Regions from separate parts of the Homo sapiens genome. Here region 1 is linked to region 2. The links come from fine-mapping of genetic effects on gene expression. A gene starts in region 2. The other region holds a variant in brackets. All regions are shown on one strand. Distances are between the middles of the regions. Region 1 holds the start of SPDYE3 (speedy/RINGO cell cycle regulator family member E3). Region 2 holds the start of LRCH4 (leucine rich repeats and calponin homology domain containing 4).

What was found. PIP is the estimated chance that this variant, and not a neighbour inherited with it, causes the effect.
Region 1: its variant is fine-mapped to the expression of LRCH4 in CD4 T cells (BLUEPRINT, PIP 0.95).

The regions. Positions count from the first base shown.
Region 1 is chr7:100,303,338-100,313,454 of GRCh38, reverse strand. SPDYE3 (speedy/RINGO cell cycle regulator family member E3) reads right to left here and starts at 5,753. Exons shown (of 11, transcript NM_001004351.5): 1 at 5,464-5,753; 2 at 4,263-4,481; 3 at 2,877-3,095; 4 at 1,487-1,705; 5 at 97-315. The coding sequence starts at 5,569. The variant C/T (reference allele first, on the strand shown) is at 4,814.
Region 2 is chr7:100,581,992-100,592,108 of GRCh38, reverse strand. It overlaps LRCH4 (leucine rich repeats and calponin homology domain containing 4), which reads left to right and starts at 5,980. Exons shown (of 18, transcript NM_002319.5): 1 at 5,980-6,228; 2 at 9,650-9,794; 3 at 9,942-10,068. The coding sequence starts at 6,009. FBXO24 (F-box protein 24) reads right to left here and starts at 5,781. Exons shown (of 10, transcript NM_033506.3): 1 at 5,445-5,781; 2 at 2,034-2,132; 3 at 1,752-1,935; 4 at 207-442. The coding sequence starts at 5,483. PCOLCE-AS1 (PCOLCE antisense RNA 1) reads left to right here. Exons shown (of 9, transcript NR_038910.1): 8 at 1,778-1,879; 9 at 2,027-2,708. RefSeq lists enhancers at 1,351-2,151, 6,644-7,157, 7,158-7,671, 7,937-8,096, 8,069-8,363 and 1 more and silencers at 5,103-5,222, 5,983-6,412, 6,453-6,502.

The DNA.
Region 1 (10,117 bases), 280 kb after region 2:
GGGGCATATTATTCCCATTGGAAAAGTGTGGTTATTGGAAGTTTCCTCTTTTTAGAAAGAACAGGATTGGAGGTGCTCTCTGGGGTGTCCTCCTACCAAGCAGCCTGTTGAAGGCCTCGTAGTACTCAGGGAGCACGAGCGACACTCGCCGTCGCTTCGCCTTCATCTTGAGGCCACACAGCGTCTCCGCCACCCAGGTCTCCTCAGGCTCAGGGGCGAGCTCCTTCTCTGGCTCATCATCAGATTCATCCAAACACTCCCTCTTCCTTTTGCAGCCAAGGGACCTACGTGGGGGGCTGGGATCTACCCCAGGGGCTGAGTAAAGAAACCAGGCCACCGTGTAATGCTTCTGCAACTGATCACGTTAGACCCCGACCCCAAACCCCAAACCACTCTCCATCCTCCCCAGCCTCGCAGACTGCTGGCTTCTCCAAGCCACCTTTCTGACTTTCTCCTCTGCTCAACCCCATGTGCCACTCCTTCCCCTCCCCATTCTTCCCTCTCTCTGTCCTCAGAACACTGCGACATATCGTTCCCTGGTCCCTGGCTCTCTGAGGCCCTCTTTTTTTTTTTTGTTTCGAGACAGAATCTTGCTTTGTCACCCAGGCTGGAGTGTAGTGGTGCAATCTCAGCTGACTGCAACATCTATCTCCCGGATTCCAGTTATTCTCCTGCCTCAGCCTCTCAGGTAGCTGGGATTACAGGTGCCTGCCATAATGCCCAGCTCAATTTTGTACTTTTAGTAGAGACGGGGGTTTCACCATGTTGGCCAGGCTGGTCTCAAACTCCTGGCCTCACGTGATCCGCCTGCCTTGGCTTCCCAAAGTGCTGGGATTACAGGTGTGAGCCACTGCACCCAGCCTGAATTTCTCCATTCTTCCCACACACCCTCCCCAGGTTCTCCTTCCTGACCTCTGACCCTTCTTTTTTCTCTTCTTCTTTTTTTTTTTTTTTTTTTGAGACAGCGTCTCACTCTCTCACCCAGACTGGAGTGCAGTAGCACGATCTTGGCTCACTGCACCCTCTTCCTCCCAGGCTCAAGCGATTCTCCTGTCTCAGCCTCCCGAGTAGCTGGAACTACAGGCATGAGCTACTGTGCCCAGCCTTGGCTTTTCTTTTGACGCAGAGTTTTGCTCTGTCACCCAGGCTGGAGTGCAGTGGTGCAGTCATAGCTCACTGCAGCCTCAAAGTCCTGAGTTCAAGCAATCCTCTTGCCTCAGCCTCCCAACGTGCTGGGATCTCAGGCGGGAGCCACAGCGCCTGGCCCAAAACCAAGCTTTCTTATCCCAAGCACCGACCTTTATCAAGTCTACCTAATCCTCTGTTGACTCCTAAGTGTCCCTCATGAGTGATCACTTCAGAGTCCTCCCGCATGGAGAGCTCACCCACTGGGGCATATTTTTCCCATTGGAAAAGTGTGGTTATTGGAAGTTTCCTCTTTTTAGAAAGAACAGGATTGGAGGTGCTCTCTGGGGTGTCCTCCTACCAAGCAGCCTGTTGAAGGCCTCGTAGTACTCAGGGAGCACGAGCGACACTCGCCGTCGCTTCGCCTTCATCTTGAGGCCACACAGCGTCTCTGCCACCCAGGTCTCCTCAGGCTCAGGGGCGAGCTCCTTCTCTGGCTCATCATCAGATTCATCCAAACACTCCCTCTTCCTTTTGCAGCCAAGGGACCTACGTGGGGGGCTGGGATCTACCCCAGGGGCTGAGTAAAGAAACCAGGCCACCGTGTAATGCTTCTGCAACTGATCACGTTAGACCCCGACCCCAAACCCCAAACCATTCTCCATCCTCCCCAGCCTCTCAGACTGCTGGCTTCTCCAAGCCACCTTTCTGACTTTCTCCTCTGCTCAACCCCATGTGCCACTCCTTCCCCTCCCCATTCTTCCCTCTCTCTGTCCTCAGAACACTGCGTCATATCCTTCCCTGGTCCCTGGCTCTCTGAGGCCCTCTTTTTTTTTTTTGTTTCGAGACAGAATCTTGCTTTGTCACCCAGGCTGGAGTGTAGTGGTGCAATCTCAGCTGACTGCAACATCTATCTCCCGGATTCCAGTTATTCTCCTGCCTCAGCCTCTCAGGTAGCTGGGATTACAGGTGCCTGCCATAATGCCCAGCTCAATTTTGTACTTTTAGTAGAGACGGGGGTTTCACCATGTTGGCCAGGCTGGTCTCAAACTCCTGGCCTCACGTGATCCGCCTGCCTTGGCTTCCCAAAGTGCTGGGATTACAGGTGTGAGCCACTGCACCCAGCCTGAATTTCTCCATTCTTCCCACACACCCTCCCCAGGTTCTCCTTCCTGACCTCTGACCCTTCTTTTTTTTCTTCTTCTTTTTTTTTTTTTTTTTTTGAGACAGCGTCTCACTCTCTCACCCAGACTGGAGTGCAGTAGCACGATCTCGGCTCACTGCACCCTCTTCCTCCCAGGCTCAAGCGATTCTCCTGTCTCAGCCTCCCGAGTAGCTGGAACTACAGGCATGAGCTACTGTGCCCAGCCTTGGTTTTTCTTTTGACGCAGAGTTTTGCTCTGTCACCCAGGCTGGAGTGCAGTGGTGCAGTCATAGCTCACTGCAGCCTCAAAGTCCTGAGTTCAAGCAATCCTCTTGCCTCAGCCTCCCAACGTGCTGGGATCTCAGGCGGGAGCCACAGCGCCTGGCCCAAAACCAAGCTTTCTTATCCCAAGCACCGACCTTTATCAAGTCTACCTAATCCTCTGTTGTCTCCTAAGTGTCCCTCATGAGTGATCACTTCAGAGTCCTCCCGCATGGAGAGCTCACCCACTGGGGCATATTTTTCCCATTGGAAAAGTGTGGTTATTGGAAGTTTCCTCTTTTTAGAAAGAACAGGATTGGAGGTGCTCTCTGGGGTGTCCTCCTACCAAGCAGCCTGTTGAAGGCCTCGTAGTACTCAGGGAGCACGAGCGACACTCGCCGTCGCTTCGCCTTCATCTTGAGGCCACACAGCGTCTCCGCCACCCAGGTCTCCTCAGGCTCAGGGGCGAGCTCCTTCTCTGGCTCATCATCAGATTCATCCAAACACTCCCTCTTCCTTTTGCAGCCAAGGGACCTACGTGGGGGGCTGGGATCTACCCCAGGGGCTGAGTAAAGAAACCAGGCCACCGTGTAATGCTTCTGCAACTGATCACGTTAGACCCCGACCCCAAACCCCAAACCACTCTCCATCCTCCCCAGCCTCTCAGACTGCTGGCTTCTCCAAGCCACCTTTCTGACTTTCTCCTCTGCTCAACCCCATGTGCCACTCCTTCCCCTCCCCATTCTTCCCTCTCTCTGTCCTCAGAACACTGCGTCATATCGTTCCCTGGTCCCTGGCTCTCTGAGGCCCTCTTTTTTTTTTCTGTTTCGAGACAGAATCTTGCTTTGTCACCCAGGCTGGAGTGTAGTGGTGCAATCTCAGCTGACTGCAACATCTATCTCCCGGATTCCAGTTATTCTCCTGCCTCAGCCTCTCAGGTAGCTGGGATTACAGGTGCCTGCCATAATGCCCAGCTCAATTTTGTACTTTTAGTAGAGACGGGGGTTTCACCATGTTGGCCAGGCTGGTCTCAAACTCCTGGCCTCACGTGATCCACCTGCCTTGGCTTCCCAAAGTGCTGGGATTACAGGTGTGAGCCACTGCACCCAGCCTGAATTTCTCCATTCTTCCCACACACCCTCCCCAGGTTCTCCTTCCTGACCTCTGACCCTTCTTTTTTTTCTTCTTTTTTTTTTTTTTTTTTGAGACAGCGTCTCACTCTCTCACCCAGACTGGAGTGCAGTAGCACGATCTCGGCTCACTGCACCCTCTTCCTCCCAGGCTCAAGCGATTCTCCTGTCTCAGCCTCCCGAGTAGCTGGAACTACAGGCATGAGCTACTGTGCCCAGCCTTGGTTTTTCTTTTGACGCAGAGTTTTGCTCTGTCACTCAGGCTGGAGTGCAGTGGTGCAGTCATAGCTCACTGCAGCCTCGAAGTCCTGAGTTCAAGCAATCCTCTTGCCTCAGCCTCCCAACGTGCTGGGATCTCAGGCGGGAGCCACAGCGCCTGGCCCAAAACCAAGCTTTCTTATCCCAAGCACCGACCTTTATCAAGTCTACCTAATCCTCTGTTGTCTCCTAAGTGTCCCTCATGAGTGATCACTTCAGAGTCCTCCCGCATGGAGAGCTCACCCACTGGGGCATATTTTTCCCATTGGAAAAGTGTGGTTATTGGAAGTTTCCTCTTTTTAGAAAGAACAGGATTGGAGGTGCTCTCTGGGGTGTCCTCCTACCAAGCAGCCTGTTGAAGGCCTCGTAGTACTCAGGGAGCACGAGCGACACTCGCCGTCGCTTCGCCTTCATCTTGAGGCCACACAGCGTCTCCGCCACCCAGGTCTCCTCAGGCTCAGGGGCGAGCTCCTTCTCTGGCTCATCATCAGATTCATCCAAACACTCCCTCTTCCTTTTGCAGCCAAGGGACCTACGTGGGGGGCTGGGATCTACCCCAGGGGCTGAGTAAAGAAACCAGGCCACCGTGTAATGCTTCTGCAACTGATCACGTTAGACCCCGACCCCAAACCCCAAACCATTCTCCATCCTCCCCAGCCTCTCAGACTGCTGGCTTCTCCAAGCCACCTTTCTGACTTTCTCCTCTGCTCAACCCCATGTGCCACTCCTTCCCCTCCCCATTCTTCCCTCTCTCTGTCCTCAGAACACTGCGTCATATCGTTCCCTGGTCCCTGGCTCTCTGAGGCCCTCTTTTTTTTTTTTTGTTTCGAGACAGAATCTTGCTTTGTCACCCAGGCTGGAGTGTAGTGGTACAATCTCAGCTCACTGCAACATC[C/T]ATCTCCCGGATTCCAGTTATTCTCCTGCCTCAGCCTCTCAGGTAGCTGGGATTACAGGTGCCTGCCATAATGCCCAGCTCAATTTTGTACTTTTAGTAGAGACGGGGTTTCGCCATGTTGGCCAGGCTGGTCTCAAACTCTTGGCCTCACGTGATCCGCCTGCCTTGGCTTCCCAAAGTGCTGGGATTACAGGTGTGAGCCACTGCACCCAGCCTGAATTTCTCCATTCTTCCCACACACCCTCCCCAGGTTCTCCTTCCTGACCTCTGACCCTTCTTTTTTTTCTTCTTCTTTTTTTTTTTTTTTTTTTGAGACAGCGTCTCACTCTCTCACCCAGACTGGAGTGCAGTAGCACGATCTCGGCTCACTGCACCCTCTTCCTCCCAGGCTCAAGCGATTCTCCTGTCTCAGCCTCCCGAGTAGCTGGGATTATAGGCACACACCACTACCGCCTGGCTAATTTTTGTACTTTTAGTAGAGATGGGGTTTCACCATGTTGGCCAGGCTGGTCTTGAACTGCTGACCTCAGGTGATCTGCCCGCCTCGGCCTCCCAAAGTGTTGGTGTTACAGGGGTGAGCTACCGCACCTGGCCCCCTTCCTTCGTCTTAGTCAATCCTATGCCACCTCTTCTTCCTCCAGTCCCCTCACCTGATGGTCCCGACACTTCATCATCCACCACCTCCTGGAGGGGGTACCCTGAGGTGCTCCGCTGGGGGCTCTGCTCTTCCTGGGGCTGCGGTTGATGGCTCGTCATGATCTTTCCCAAAATCTGTCCAATCTCACCGAAGCTAGTCTCTGTTCTGTCCTTGGTCTTCTTCTGGACACTGCTGGGATCCAGAAGAGTGTGTTATCAATTCTCGAGGCTGGGAGAAGTCAGGAGTGGAGAACAGCTCTGAGAAGTTACTGTTGTTCACCTGAACTGCCAGGCGCCGACAGAGTCCGGTCCTTCCAATCAGGAAGGTCGGAATCTCTGATGTCATAGGTCATTCCAACCTGGCAACCAGTTTGAACAAAAACACATGTAACTGCCAGGCTGATCTCTTGTCCTGGAGATCCTGGGTGAATGGTATCTCCTGCCACTGTCCCAACCTCAGACCACTGTCCAAAAGCATCTTCAGGGTCTCCGCATCCCTCTGTTCCCTGTCCCAGCAGAGGCTGTGTCCTCTCCACTCAAAGCTTGAAGCGTGTTGGGGTCTCCTCTTCTCTGTACATGCCCGTTTCAGAGTCCAGTCTGGTGGGAGAGGGATCAGGATGGGAAAGAAAACTAGGGTAAGCAGAAACGATGAAACCTTATAAGAGTGAGAGTATCATGTACAAGAGATCCCAGGAACATTGACTTGATGAAAAAGTCACATCAGAGCACTCAATTTGGCAGAGCTTTTCTGCCGAATGTTTACTGATATTCACTGTCCGAGATTCTGTACTGGGTGTAACGTGTCCTCTGCCCTAAGGCATCTTTGAGTCCAAGAGATATTTTGAGGACTGGAAATCATCGGAAACTGCCCATGAGCTCACACATATTTCCAATGGTGTCCCCAGTTTCAGGGAGTCCACGGATCACCTAAAGCCAGCCCCTCCAGTTTGGCTAAGAAACTCTATATATCAAGTTTTGTATCATATGTATTGCTCTTAACTCAGAAATTCCACCATTTATAGCAGTGGTTTATTTATTTATACTATTGAAGGAAATGGTTTATTTATGAATCTATATTATGGATATTCTATAAGATACTGGGTGTACAAAAAGACTAAGTCGAAAAATCTCAGCTGTGCACAGTGGCTCATGCTTGCAATCCCATCTCTTTGGGTGGCCAAGGGAGGAAGACTGCCTGAGGCCAGCAGTTCAAGACCAGTGTAGGCAACATAGCAAGACCCCATCTCAAACAAAACAAAACAAAACAGAACAAAATTAGCCAGGTGTCGTGGCTGGCACCTGTGTTCCAACAACTTGAGAGACTGAGGTGGCAGGAGGATTGCTTGAGCCTAGGAGTTAGGGGCTGCAGTGAGCTGTGATCGTGACACCGCACTCCAGTCTGGGCAACACAGCAAGACCTTGTGTCAAAAAAATTTTTTTAATTAAATATAAAAGAGTTTCATGACATTCAGAGACCATCCAAAGAACCTGTGGGTTCCGGCCAGGCACAGTGGCTCACGCCTGTAATCCCAGCGCTTTGGGAGGCCATAGCAGGTGGATCGCTTGAGGTCAGGAGTTTAAGAGCAGCCTGGCCAACATGGTGAAACCCCATCTCTTCTAAAAATACAAAAAATTAGTCAGGCATGGTGGTGGGTGCCTGTAATCCCAGCCACTCAGGAGGCGGGGGCAGCAGAATGGCTTAAACTTGGGAGGCGGAGGTTGCAGTGAGCCAAGGTCGCACCATTGCACTCCAGCCTGGGCAACAAGAGCAAAACTACATCTCAAAAAAAAAAAAAAAACAAACAAAAAGAACCTGTGGATGAGTTCCCACATGGCTTCCTAACGGGCTGCGGCTCTCCTAGGAGTCTCTCGCTCATGGGAAAGGCACAAACTGAATGTGGAAGGAAATCCCATTGCTGTGGAAGTCCCATTGTTAGGAAGCTCTGCTTTTCTGGAGTTCAAATTTGCATTCATGACGCTTTAAACCGTCAGAGCTGGGTGTGTCCTCCTACAACAAATCACTTTACTCTCTCTCTCTCCTAGTTAACAGGCTTTCAAATATTAGAACATCCATGTTCTGACCTCATTAAAATTGCTCTTTTGTGGAATGAAAAGCTCTGATTTAACCCGTCTTTAAGCCTGGTATGCATATTCCTCTCTGTTCCGGCCACCTTGTCTAGACACACTACACTGAGGCAGTGCCCATCTTAGATGATGTTGATACATTGTCAAAAAATGGGCAAACCAGGCGCGGTGGCTCACACTTGTAATCCCAGCACTTTTGGAAGCCGATGCCGACAGATAACCAGAGGTGAGGAGGTTGAGATCAGCCTGGCCAACATGGTGAAACCTGTCTGTTTTTCTGTAAAAATACAGAAACAATGAGCTGGGTGTGGGAGTGCACTTCTGTAATTCCAGCTACTTGCGGGGCTGAGGCAGGAGAATCACTTGAACCGGGATGGTGGAGGTTCCAGTGAGCCGAGATCACGACACTACACTCCAGCCTGGGCGACAGAGTGAGACTCCGACTCAAAAAAAAAAAAAAAGTGCCAGACAGCCCAGGTTTGGTCTGATATGTTCAGAAAAAAGCAAAACAGTCACCTCTCACCTTTTCTTTTCCTGCAATGATGCCGTTTAATACAACAATGGCTGTAGGTCTGCGGCAGAAATATCATTCAAGTGAAACAGAAGGGCTTTCCTGGCTGGACACAGTGGTCACTCCTGCAATCCCAACACTTTGGTTGGCTAAGGTGGGAGGATTTCTTGCGGCCAGGAGTTCGAGGCTGCAGTGAGCTGTGATCTACCACTGCATTCCAGGCTGGGCATCAGAGTGAGGCCTGTCTCTAAAAAAAACCCTTCACTCCCCAAAAAAAGGGATTTTCAAATACCAGCCTTTCAGCATGAGGATCACATGGAGGAACATTAAGACACAGATGCTGGGACCCAGCCCTATTGATTGTAATTAAAAAACTGAGGTGAGGCCTGATTTAGCTCCATCATTGGAATCCATTCAGATTTGAAATTCTCTGAGTTGGACAGTGCAAGAGAGATCCTAAAGAAAGCAAAGTCACCGTGGACTGAAATGAGCTGACAAGGTTTTCTGAGCGTGGTGAAATATGATCTGGGCCTTGCTTGGGAGGGCTGTGGCCAGGCCTTGAGTCCGTGGCTCAGTGGGACCTTCTGAAACAGCCTCCAATCCGTGCCCCCACTTCATTTGCTAGTGGATGACCCCCTCCAGTGGCTTTGGTGCTGATGGGAATAAGTCGACCTGCAGCGGAAGTTCAGCCCAAGTTTTAGCCCAGCAGCTTCTCCACACCTGTCCGTGGTCTGGTCATGCCGCCGTCTCTGCGGTTCTCTGCGGAGTCGTGGTTTCTGTACCTTGAAGAGAACTTCCCCTCTGGGACCCAGAAACCCAGTGAATCCTCAGGAAAAAAGGGAATGAAATTACTGAAGACAACTCTGTGGCGGGGAGATGGAAAAGAGGCTCTCTCTCTTTTTTTTTCCTAATATTTTGAGACAGAGTTTCGCTCTTGTCACCCAGGCTGCAGTGCAGTGGCTCCATCTCGGCTCACTGCAACCTCTGCCTCCCAGGTTCAAGTGATTCTCCTGCCTCAGCCTCCCGAGTAGCTGAGATTACAGGCACCCACCACCACTCCCGGCTAATTTTTGTATTTTAGGGTTTCGTCATGTTTGCCAGGCTGATCTTGAACACCTGACTTCAAATGATCCACCTGCCTCTGCCTGTCAAAGTGCTGGGAATACAGGCATAAGACACTGCACCTGGCCTGTTTTTGTTTTTTAGAGACAAGGTCTCTGTTGCCTTGGCTGGGGTGCAGTGGTACAATCAGCTCTCTGTTGCCTCCTGGGCTCAAGCAATCCTCTTCTCTCACCCTCCCAAGTAGCTGAGACTACAGGTGCATGCCTGTAGTAGATATAGCATCTTGCTCTGTTGCCCAGACTGGTCTTGAACTCTTGGTCACAAGCGATCCTCTTGCCTTGGCCTCTCAGAGTGCTGGAATTACACACATGAGCCATTGAGCCCAACCAGATAAGATGATCTTTAAGGGCCCTTCCCATGGTACCATATCCAAGTCAGCGAGACTGTGGCTATAGCAAGTTTAACATAACCAGATACGCTAGTATTATGGGCTGCATGGTGTGCCCCCCACCCCTAATTCATGTATTGAAGCCATGACCCTCCAGACCTTAGAGGTGACCTTATTGGAACCAGAGTCTTTACAGAGGTGATCAAGTTAAAATGAGGTCACTAGAGGCCAGGCACGGTGGCTCACACCTGTAATCCCAGCACTTCGGGAGGCCGAGGCAGGCAGATAATGAGCCCAAGAGACCAAGACCATGATGTCCAACATGGTGAAACCCTGTCTCTACTAAAAATACAAAAATTAGCCAGGCGTGGTGGTGTGGGCCTGTAGTCCCAGCTACTCAGGAGGCTGAGGCAAGAGAATCGCTTGAACCCGGAAGGCAGAGATTGCAGTCAGCCAAGATCATGCCACTACACTCCAGCCTGGGTGACAGAGTGAGACTCTATCTCAAAAAAATAAAAATTAAAAAACTAAAAACCTACAGCACCGCCTTTTACATAATGCAATGGTTTGGTAAGCACATGCACCCCAGGGAGGTAGTGGCAGATTCAGTCAACCTTCCCAG
Region 2 (10,117 bases):
TTTTGTATTTTTAGTAGAGACGGGTTTCGCCATTTGGCCAGGCTGGTCTCGAACTCCTGGTCTCAGCTGATCCGCCTGCCTCAGCCTCCCAAAGTGCTAGGATTACAGGTGTAAGCCACTGCACCCGGCCTCTGGTACGTCTTTATAGCAGTGTGAAAATGGACTAATACAGGTGGGCTCTCAGCTGCCAGGGTTCTGCTACTCACATCCTTGGCTCCACGACACAACACAACATAGCGACAGGCCCGCTTCCACTGCATCTGGCCGAGGGTGGAGACCAGGGCATTTTTGAGGAAGAAGAGGGTCCCCACGTAGTCAAGAATGAAGACGTGATCCTTGGTGGGCAAGAAGCGGCGGTAGCCGTGGGCTAGCAAGGGGGCCACGCTCTTGCTGAGACATCGGCGGCGGCCTCCAAATGCCTGGAAATACAGGCCCTTCGTGTCTGGAGGAAGGAAGGAGATGGAAGGTTCAAGGGATGAGATGACACGAGGGAGATGAGTTGGAGCTTGGGTAGATTTCTTAGACACGCTGGTTTGTAGTTCCTCCCCATCCCCAGGACAGGGGAACAAACAGACCCCTTATGAAGGAGATGTGGAAAATAAGCTTAGATTATACTCGACATGTGAACTTTAGTCTCCACCCCACCTCAGCCCAGGGTCAAACATTTGCTTCTTAGTGAGCAGTTCTTTGGTGCAACCTTGCATCAGTGATGTTGAGGAAAACTCTAAGAATAAAGACACAGAGGCTGCGTGCGGCATCCACCCCCCTCACCCTGAGCCCCTCCTCCCATCCTCACAGCTCAGTGAATTTTTGCACGCCTGTAATCCCAGCACTTTGGGAGCCCAGGAGTTTGAGACCAGCCTGGGCAACGTGGCAAAACCCCATCTCTACTAAAAATACAAAAATTATCCGGGTGTGGTGGCGGGAGCCTGTAATCCCAGCTACTCAGGAGGCTGAGGCACGAGAATACTTGAACCCGGGAGGTGGAGGTTGCATTGAGCCAAGATTGCACCACTGTGCTCCAGCCTGGGTGACAGAGCAAGACCCTGTCTCAAAAAAAAAAAAAAAAAAAAAAAATCAAAGAAAAAGAAAGAAAAGAGAAGAGACAGAAACAGGAGTGAAAAGGAATGATTGATGAAGGCCGGTCATCCTCCCTCACCCCTAGCTTTGGATCTGTTTTCTGGGTCCCCCTTCTCTTTTAATCTCCCAGTGAGTGTAAGAAGTACACCCTGGGGGATCCCTGGAGGGGAAGAGGGTTTATGGCATGGTTCTCAGGCTAGGGGTGATTTTGTCCTTCAAGGGCATTGGTTGTCACAATTAAGGGGGATGCTGCTGGCCATCTGGTGGGTGGAGGCCAGGGTTGCTGCTTAAACATCCCACCATGCAGAGGACAGCTCCCCACATCAAGGAATTATTTTGCCCAGAATATCAACAGTGAGTTCAGAAGCCTTGGGTTAGAGGAGGGAAAACTCCAGGTTTGGGGAGTGAGGGATGCCTCTAGGGAAAAAGCGGGAAGTGTCTGTGTACAGAGGGAGACTTGGCAGGGAGGCCGCTAACGGGGGCTGTGGGTGGATTCCGAAGACTTGGAGGAAGTACTCAAGGGAGAATGTTTGAACTGGACCCGTTTCTTCCGGAGAAAGGGGCCCTGGAAGCACTGTTGGGAGTGTGGGGGTCATCAGGGGACTTTAGAGAGCAGGAAGGCTAAGGCGGGACAGAGGCAAGGAGAACGGGAGGTTCTGGGGAAGGTGTACAGTTCAGAATGGCAGCTCTCTTCCAGGGCCGGACTCCAGAACCCTGATCTTGGAGGCGCGGACTGAGTCTGCGACAGATGCGTCTCCACACGCCTTCCCCATCGCACACTTCGTGGAAGTAGCGGCAGGTCTGGCCGAGGGCAACAAGGTCTCTGACTGGGAGGAATGAGATGATATGCTCCACCTGGGAGGGAGGAGGGAAGAAGCGGGGAGTCTTTGGTGGCCCCTCGGTGATCTGGCCCCCAATCCTATTATTCTCAATCCCCCTCCCCAAGGACTCACCAGCTCTGGGGGGAACAACTGGATGGAAATCGGATTTCCTTTCCCCCTCTTCTCTTCAACCCCAAGCTCCGAGCCACAAGAAGGGCAGCTTCTCTTCACCTACCCAAGAAGGGGTGCATAGGGTCCCATGAGGGTCCCACATCCTTTTTTCCCTTCTCTCCGCCTACCTTGGGGCTCATCTGACTCTAGCTGGGCACAGTTATTTCCTCCCCTCTCTCTCCAGACCCATCCCTAACTTCTCCAAATAACTCCTCCCGATCTCCTGCGGCCAATCCCCCTCACCCGGAGCCCCTCCTCCCGTCCACACAGCCTGGTGAATTTTTGCAGCTTCCGTCTCTGGCTTCCCCTGACCATCCTGATTGCCCCCTCCCTGCTCCTGCCCTCCTGTCTCCTAGGCCCTTGGCCCCCCCGTTCCTGCTGGCTTTCCCACACCATGTCCCCAGCCTAGGCTTGGGGGACCTCTGAGGCCCCTCTGCCTCCTAGGCCCCTCCCCCATGGAGTCTGGGGCTAACAAACCTCTCTGTGACCTCACTGTTTGGCCACTGTGACCTGTTCCCTTTAATCTTGCCCAGGACCCATCTCTTAGACAGCTCCTGGGTTCTAGCTCAGTTCTAGCCATCACATGGCTCAAGGGATATGCATTTTACTGGAGAAATAAAGTGTGAATTACTGGTAGGTGACATCTTTATTTCAGGGAGCAGGAGGAAGTTTTCCTATTTGAGGCCCTTTTAGCACTAACTCTGTAGAGAAACACTAGTGAATTCCTCACATTTCAGCAGGCCAAGGCCTCTAGGGATTGGTAGCTCAAGAGTATAGACTCAAAAAACTATAAACTCAGTTTGACAGGTGAGATGGAGAGGTGACTGTGCTAATAATCGTTTAGCTCACAAATGATTCAGCAAACTCTTTAGACTTGTGAAAAAACACATCCAAAAGGAGACTGCAGCCTGGTGCCGGTGGCTAACGCCCGAAATCCCAGCACTTTTGGGTGGCCATGGTGCAAGGATGGCTTGAGGCCATGGGTTTCAAGACCAGCCTGGTCAACATAGACCCTGCGTCTATTAAAAAAAAAAAAAAACTTAAAAATTACCCAGGCGTGGTGATGCACCCCTGTAGTCCCAGCTACACAGGAGGCTGAGGCAGGAGGATTGCTTGAGCCCAGTTTGAGGCAGCAGTGAGCTATGATCGTGCCACTGCACTCCAGCCCGGGCGAGAATGATACCCAGTTTCAAAAAAAACAAACAAAAAAGAAGACTGCTTTTGCTTTCCTGAGGGACAGTAACATCATTGCATGTATAAAGGACAACCTATTAAGGTGGGAGAAAGGGATGGATTTCCTCTGAAAGCTTAGGATTTCTCCCAGGGTCTCTGATATTAGCTTTGTCTTATGTGGGGTGACATTTATCAGGAGAAACAGCAGGGGTCAGGGTTGTGTCTGTCCCACTCAGGCCAGATCTACACCAATAAATCCAAGGAGTGGCTGGCTCTTGCAGGGGCTCAAAGGAGTCCCATCCTGCCAGACCACCAGCCCTCACCACACAGTGTCACAGATCCGTTCATTGACTGCACCAGACTGACCACCCAAATTCCCTTATGTATGGTGCCTAGCCATGGCTAGGCTGGGATGCCTGAGATGGAATTTTAATTCTTCAGCAACTACTCAGGAATATCAACCTCTGAGATGTGAACTAAGGAGAAAGCAACTTCAGTGACTTATTTCTGGGCAACCTACCACATAGGGAGGGGACTGCATTAGGGACTCATGCCACTTAGAAAGGAAGATCTCCAAGTAGACAGAAAGGTATTTTCCATTCCTCTTGCATTTGGGTCCCCTTTATCCACTCCATTTCACCCCAGGAGGCAAACGAGAGGTTGTGAATAGAAAAAGTCCACTGTGGGCCAGGCTTTGTGGCTCACGCTTATAATCCCAGCACTTCGGGAGGCCGAGGTGGGAGCATTGCTTGAGCCCAGGAGTTTGAGATCAGCCTGGGCAACATAGTAGGACCCTGTCTCTACAAAAAATACAATTAGCTGGCATGGTGGTGCGTGCTTGTAGTCCCAGTTACTCGGGAGGCTGAGGTGGGAGGTTGAGGCTGCAGTGAGCTGCGATCAAGCCACTGCACTCCAGCCTGGGCAACAGAGCGACTCTGTCTCAAAAGAAAGAAAAAGTCCACTGTGGGCCGGGTGCGGTGGCTCACGCCTGTGATCCCAGTACTTTGGGAGGCAGAGGCAGGATCGCTTGAGGTCAAAAGTTTGAGACCAGCCTGGGCAACATAGCAAAACCCCATCTCTACAAAAATTGAAAATAAATTAGCCAGGTGCAGTGGTGCCGCCCGTGGTCCCAGCTACTTGGGAGGCTGAGGCAGGAGGATCACTTGAGCCCAGGCATTCAAGGCTGCAGTGAGCCATGACTGCACCACTGCACTCCAGCCTGGGCGACAGAATCAGACCTTCTTAAAAAAAAAAAAAAAAAGGCCGGGCGCGGTGGCTCACGCCTGTAATGCCAGCACTTTGGGAGGCCGAGGAGGGCATATTGCCTGAGCTCCTGAGTTTGCGACCAGCCTGGGCAACACGGTGAAACCCCGTCTCTACTAAAATACAAAAAATTAGCCGGGTGTGGTGGCGGGCGCCTGTAGTCCCAGCTACTCGGGAGGCTGAGGCAGGAGAATTGCTTGAACCCGGACAGTGGAGGTTGCTGTGAGCCGAGATCGCGCCACTGCACTCCAGCCTGGGCGACTGAGCGAGACTCCATCTCAAAAAATAAAAAAATAAAAAGAGGAAGGGAACGGAAGGGAGAGGGAGGGAGGGAGGAAGAGAGGAAGGGAGTGAAAACATCCACTGTGAAAACTGAGGGAGCGGGAAAGGGCTGTGCGTGGAGGATCCAGAGACCTGGTTTCTAGAGCAAGCCAGCTGTCAGGAACTTGCTGTTCGCTCTTGCTAACGCATCAACTTCCCTCTGCCTCAGTTTCTGCATTCGTAGCACCAAGGGCGTGTTCTAGGCGGTGAGATCCTTTCTAAGCCTCTAAAACCCCGTGGTCTGGTCCCCTCTCCATTCCTGTCCAGGGGAGCTCCTCGGGTGAGACGGCAGACCGTGCAACGCTGCACCTACACCCTCCCTCCTCGAGCTGGGCATCTCCAGGCTCTGGGAAGCCCCCCGCCCGCCCCCAGCCCGGGGGTCCCGAGACCCCTGCCAGAGGCTTCACAGTCGGAGGTCCCCCCGCTGCCCCTTCAGCTGCGACAACCGCCAGTGCACTGGCCTCAAGCAGTCGCCCGAATCCCCTCAAGCCCTGGACGCCGGCTAGCCCCCTAACACGTCCAGCTCGCACTCGCCACTGCAGCGGCGAACTGCGTTCCCGGCCGGCCAGGGGCTCCGCGTTCATTCTTAACCTCAGTCTTAAAGTTCTAGCTCACCCGCCTCCTCCTTAGCAAAGGGACCGCCTTCTCGCCCATGCTATTGGTAGGTAGAGCCGTCCCTCAGAGAAGAGGCAGGTCCAGATTCCCTTCGGAGGCTCTAATTGGCCTTCTTGACAGTCACTCGCCTGTATCTGGCTTACGATTGGTCTTTGGGGGACGAGGACTAGGCACCCCCTGCTTGCGGTCCCTCGGCCCGTTTTCCTGCTAGTGGAGTGCCGGTGTCCCCTCCTCTTGGTTGGACCTGATTGGCTCCACCTCCCGATCTGAGCATTGTGATTGGGTGCAGCTGCGCTGGGCGGGACGGCCTGGAGCGTCGGCCGTTGGCGAGCGCTCTATCCTTGTTCCCCTCCCTTCTCTCGTCAGACTCCGGCGCCGGAGCTCCACCCCCACTGACGGGTTCTGATTGGCCGCTTCTGACGCGTCTCGGGGCCACGATTGGTCCGTCCGGTCCCGGACACCGCTCCCTCCCCCTTGAGGCAACTACGGCGGCTCCAAGGAGGGGGTGGGGGAAGGAGGGACGGCCGGTCCCGTCAGTCAGGCAGCGGGAGCCGCCGGGAGCGGATGGCGGCGGCCGTAGCGGCTCCACTCGCCGCCGGGGGTGAGGAGGCGGCAGCCACGACCTCCGTGCCCGGGTCTCCAGGTCTGCCGGGGAGACGCAGTGCAGAGCGGGCCCTAGAGGAGGCCGTGGCCACCGGGACCCTGAACCTGTCTAACCGGCGCTTGAAGCACTTCCCCCGGGGCGCGGCCCGTAGCTACGACCTGTCAGACATCACCCAGGCTGGTGAGTGCAGCCGGGCCCCGGGCCCAACCGGGTCCCTCATTTGCATAGCCCCACCCCGGGCCCCGCCCGGCCCGGGAGTCGGGCCCGCCCCTTCACCTGGCGGCCAGGGTTGCTGCCCCTCCTGATTGCCCTAAACCTGCAGCCATCCTCTCCCATCTTTGAGAACCCCCTAGACAATGAACGTGCTTCTCGTTTGCACAGAACGCCCTGCGCCTCCGAGCGTTGGGAGAGATTCCTCCTTTCTCTTTATTTGCATATCTGCGCACCTGTAGGATGGTCCCGCCCCTCACCTGGTTGGCTTATTTACATGATCTCTTAACCTCAGCTCCAATCGGTCTATGAAGCAGTCCCCACGAGCTCCTCTAATAACTGCTTTCTCTCCCTCTTCATCTACACCTCTTAACCCCCGTCCCACCGAGATCCGAGCAGCCCCGGGCACCCCCTTCCCAGTGACTGGCCCCTAAGCCCGAGGTTTCTGCTTTCTGTGCCGCAACCCCGCCCCCTAAGGTCCTGGCCCTCTCCACTGTCCACGCAGCTCTCCAGCCTATGGGAAAGAAACAAATCTCTACCTCCCCTCACTCTTTTCTCCCTGAGCTCTTCCGCCTATTATCCCCAACCGGCTTATCTGAGATTCCTCCTCCTCCTTCCTAAGCCTGTGAGGTCACTGTGGAGCCTGTGACCTCATAGGGATCTTAGAATTCCCATTTCAGTTTCTGCTTTCCCCCGGGGGAGGGACTTGAGGCCGTTGCTGGAGGGAAGGAAATCTTATCTCCTAGCTGGGAGTGCTGGCCAGCTAGAGACTGTCCTTCCACGCCTCCACCCGCAGGATCTGTCCAACCATGCACCCTCCACCCTGGTGTCTGTGGATGGTAGGGGGTGGGGGACTTAACTGTGACAGGTGAGTCAAGCCTCAGCTACTCAGGAGGCAGCCTATGACCTTGGGCCGGCAGCTGGGGGTGGGGATCAGGATCAGGGAGGAGGACTGCATTCCCGAAGCCTCACCCCAGCCCAGGCCTCTTCCTCCTCTCATCTGCACGGTGGGGGACCAGAGCTGGAGGATAGTGCTTACTTCTCCCTAAGCAGGTGCCTGCTCACCTGGGAACACTCAGGCCGGCACTGGCACACATCCTCTTCCCTCTTCTGGGGAGAACCAGTCGAAACCTCCCCACTGATCTCGCCTGCTCTGCAACACTTGAGATGGGGAATGAGTGAGCTCCAGGAGCCATTCCTGCCCCTTACAGCCCTGTTCCCTCCCACCCCCACCTAACCCCACACTCCAGATTGACCTCAGCAGCTGTGTGACACTCACTGTCTGTTCCCTTCCCCTCCCCCTTGGTTGTTTTTTGACAAAGACCAAATGTTATTCTTTACTTCCTTAGGCTGTCTCTCCCTGTGTGGACTCTTGGGGAAAACTACCCGGAGCTCCCCGGCCCCTCCCAGCTCCCGCCCCCGGCCCCCTCCTCCCCCAGCATTCCGGCTCAGGGTGCAGCCGTGCTCCTGTGAGCTTGGGGGGGGGTCGGAAATCCCAGCTTCCCAAGAACCCTCCTCTGCCCCACTCTCTACACAGGGCCCAGGTTCTAGGCCAAGTGGGGTCCCTCTTGTCCAGAATTCTCTCCTCTGTCCCCTCTCCGCAAGCAGGGACAGAAAGGGGAAGTGACAAAAACATACAGTTGCCCATACCCTGCCCTCCATCTCTCCTCGCCCTCCAAGCAGACGAAAAGCATCAGTGCCTTGCTGCCCGGACTGCCTTGAGCCTTCCCCTCCCGTCTCCCATCTCTTTCTGAGTGTCTTCGCTGCGTGTCGCCTAGTCTTGGGTCCCTGATCTCCCTTGGACTAGGCTCCCTGGGGTGATAGTAGGAAGAATCCTGAGGTGGCGGGGAGGGGCCATCTTGCAAAGGAGAAGTGCAGCTCATTCTCTCCCAGACCACATCCTGTGCCCCCAGTGCCCTGCCTCCTGCCTGAGCTCCCTTCCGCTCCTAGCTTTTGTCCCCGCCACCGCCTACCCCATCAGAACTCTGAGAACTCGGTCTCCACCCCCTTCGTCCACATGCACACACACAAACACATTTGCAGAGAAAGCGGGCAGGTGGAGGCGAGGCTGGGAGGGGCAAATGCCATCCCCCCACCCTCTCCAGAACGGTCATCTCTGAGGCCAGGGCTTCTGTCTGTGCACCAGGGCTGGGCAGAGAGGAAGAGAAAGGGGTCCCGGGGCATCAGGCTGTCATCCACCCTGGTAAACACGGGGCCTACCAGAGCCAGAACCTGACAGATTGTTTCTACTTCATTTCCTGTCACAAGACTCATTTCCTTGGGGGATATACCCGGCTTCTCTCCTCTGCTTGCTTTTGCTGGCCTGCCCTTCCCTGAGAAGGGCCCTTGGAGAAGCTCACCAGGTCTGTGGCCTGGGACTCCGCCTCGCGGGCCCTGGGCCCCTCCCAGGACAGGCTGGGCCGAGGAAACAGAAAGGCAGGCTTCTCCAGGTCTAAGCCGTTAGTGGGTCCGTGCTACAGGGAATCCCAAGGCTGCCAGCCTCCGCATAGCAAGGCAGTGCTCCAGATAAGAGGGCGATTGTAGACCCCAGGCCCTCCCACACTCTCCACCCTCGCCGTGCCTGAGATGCTCACACAGTTGCTGATCTCTTGAAGTCTGTGTCAGTAAGAGAGGAAGCAGAGCCGGGCTGCTAGGGCTAGCAGAGGGTAGGAAGGATGCCTGCCCTGGGCCAGAGAAGCCCAGATGGGAGGGACCTGGGAACTCCAGCTCCCATCTCCAACCAGGTCTTCTTGCCCTTCCCTCCCAGCCCTTGGGAATCAGTAACTTTATGATTCTTTGGACCTGGCTTGCTGGTCCTTGGGGCTGGCGAAAAACTCGTCCGGTGTCGGGGACTTTATCTCTAGAACCAAGATAGAGTGACCTGTGGTTTTTCCCGTGTTGAAAACACACTGGAGTAGGGAAGAAGGGCCCCGAGGAGGGATGGGCACTCCCTGTGGTTTGCCCCAGGGGTTTCCCATCTTCCCTCCGGGAGCCCCCCAGCCCCTCGCCTTACTGTTTTCCCATGAGCACTGACCCCTCCTCTCACCTTCGGTCCTCCGCCTCACCTGGCATCTCTGAACAGGAACCACAGGAGTTAGAGATTCCAGCTGCTCTCCAGGATAGCCCTCCATTGACATTCCCCAACCCCCAAGTCTGAGGCTTCTCTAGCCCAGTGACGCTAAGGCCTTTGCCTTCCCTGTGCCATTCTGGTCACGCCTGGAATGTGCTCCCGTTGGCAGAAGGCTTTGTTATCTCTCCTGGGAGGCCACATTGATGGCCTTGAATCTTTAGGTGTGGAGGTGAGGGAGTGGGCAGCCGGCTCTGGGGGGACTGAAGGTCCTGTCCGGGCTGGGCCTTTCCGCAACTCTCCCCGACACCTCCTTTTCCCCAGACCTGTCCCGGAACCGGTTTCCCGAGGTGCCCGAGGCGGCGTGCCAGCTGGTGTCCCTGGAGGGCCTGAGCCTCTACCACAATTGCCTGAGATGCCTGAACCCAGCCTTGGGGAATCTCACAGCCCTCACCTACCTCAACCTCAGGTAGGGAGGCCGAGCCAGGGCCACGTGGGAGCGTGTGCTTCTCAGTCTCAAGTACTACTGAGTGACCCACCCAGTGACCCCGAGAGGATGGCAGTGCTGGGATGCCATGCCTGGGGAGCCAGTCCGCTGCCTTTCTCCCTTCCACAGCCGAAACCAGCTGTCGCTGCTGCCACCCTACATCTGCCAGCTGCCCCTGAGGGTCCTCATCGTCAGCAACAACAAGCTGGGAGCCCTGCCCCCTGACATCGGCACCCTGGGAAGCCTGCGACAGCTTGTGAGGATGGGGACGGGACCAGGAAAGGGACCCCTGAGCCAGGCAGCGG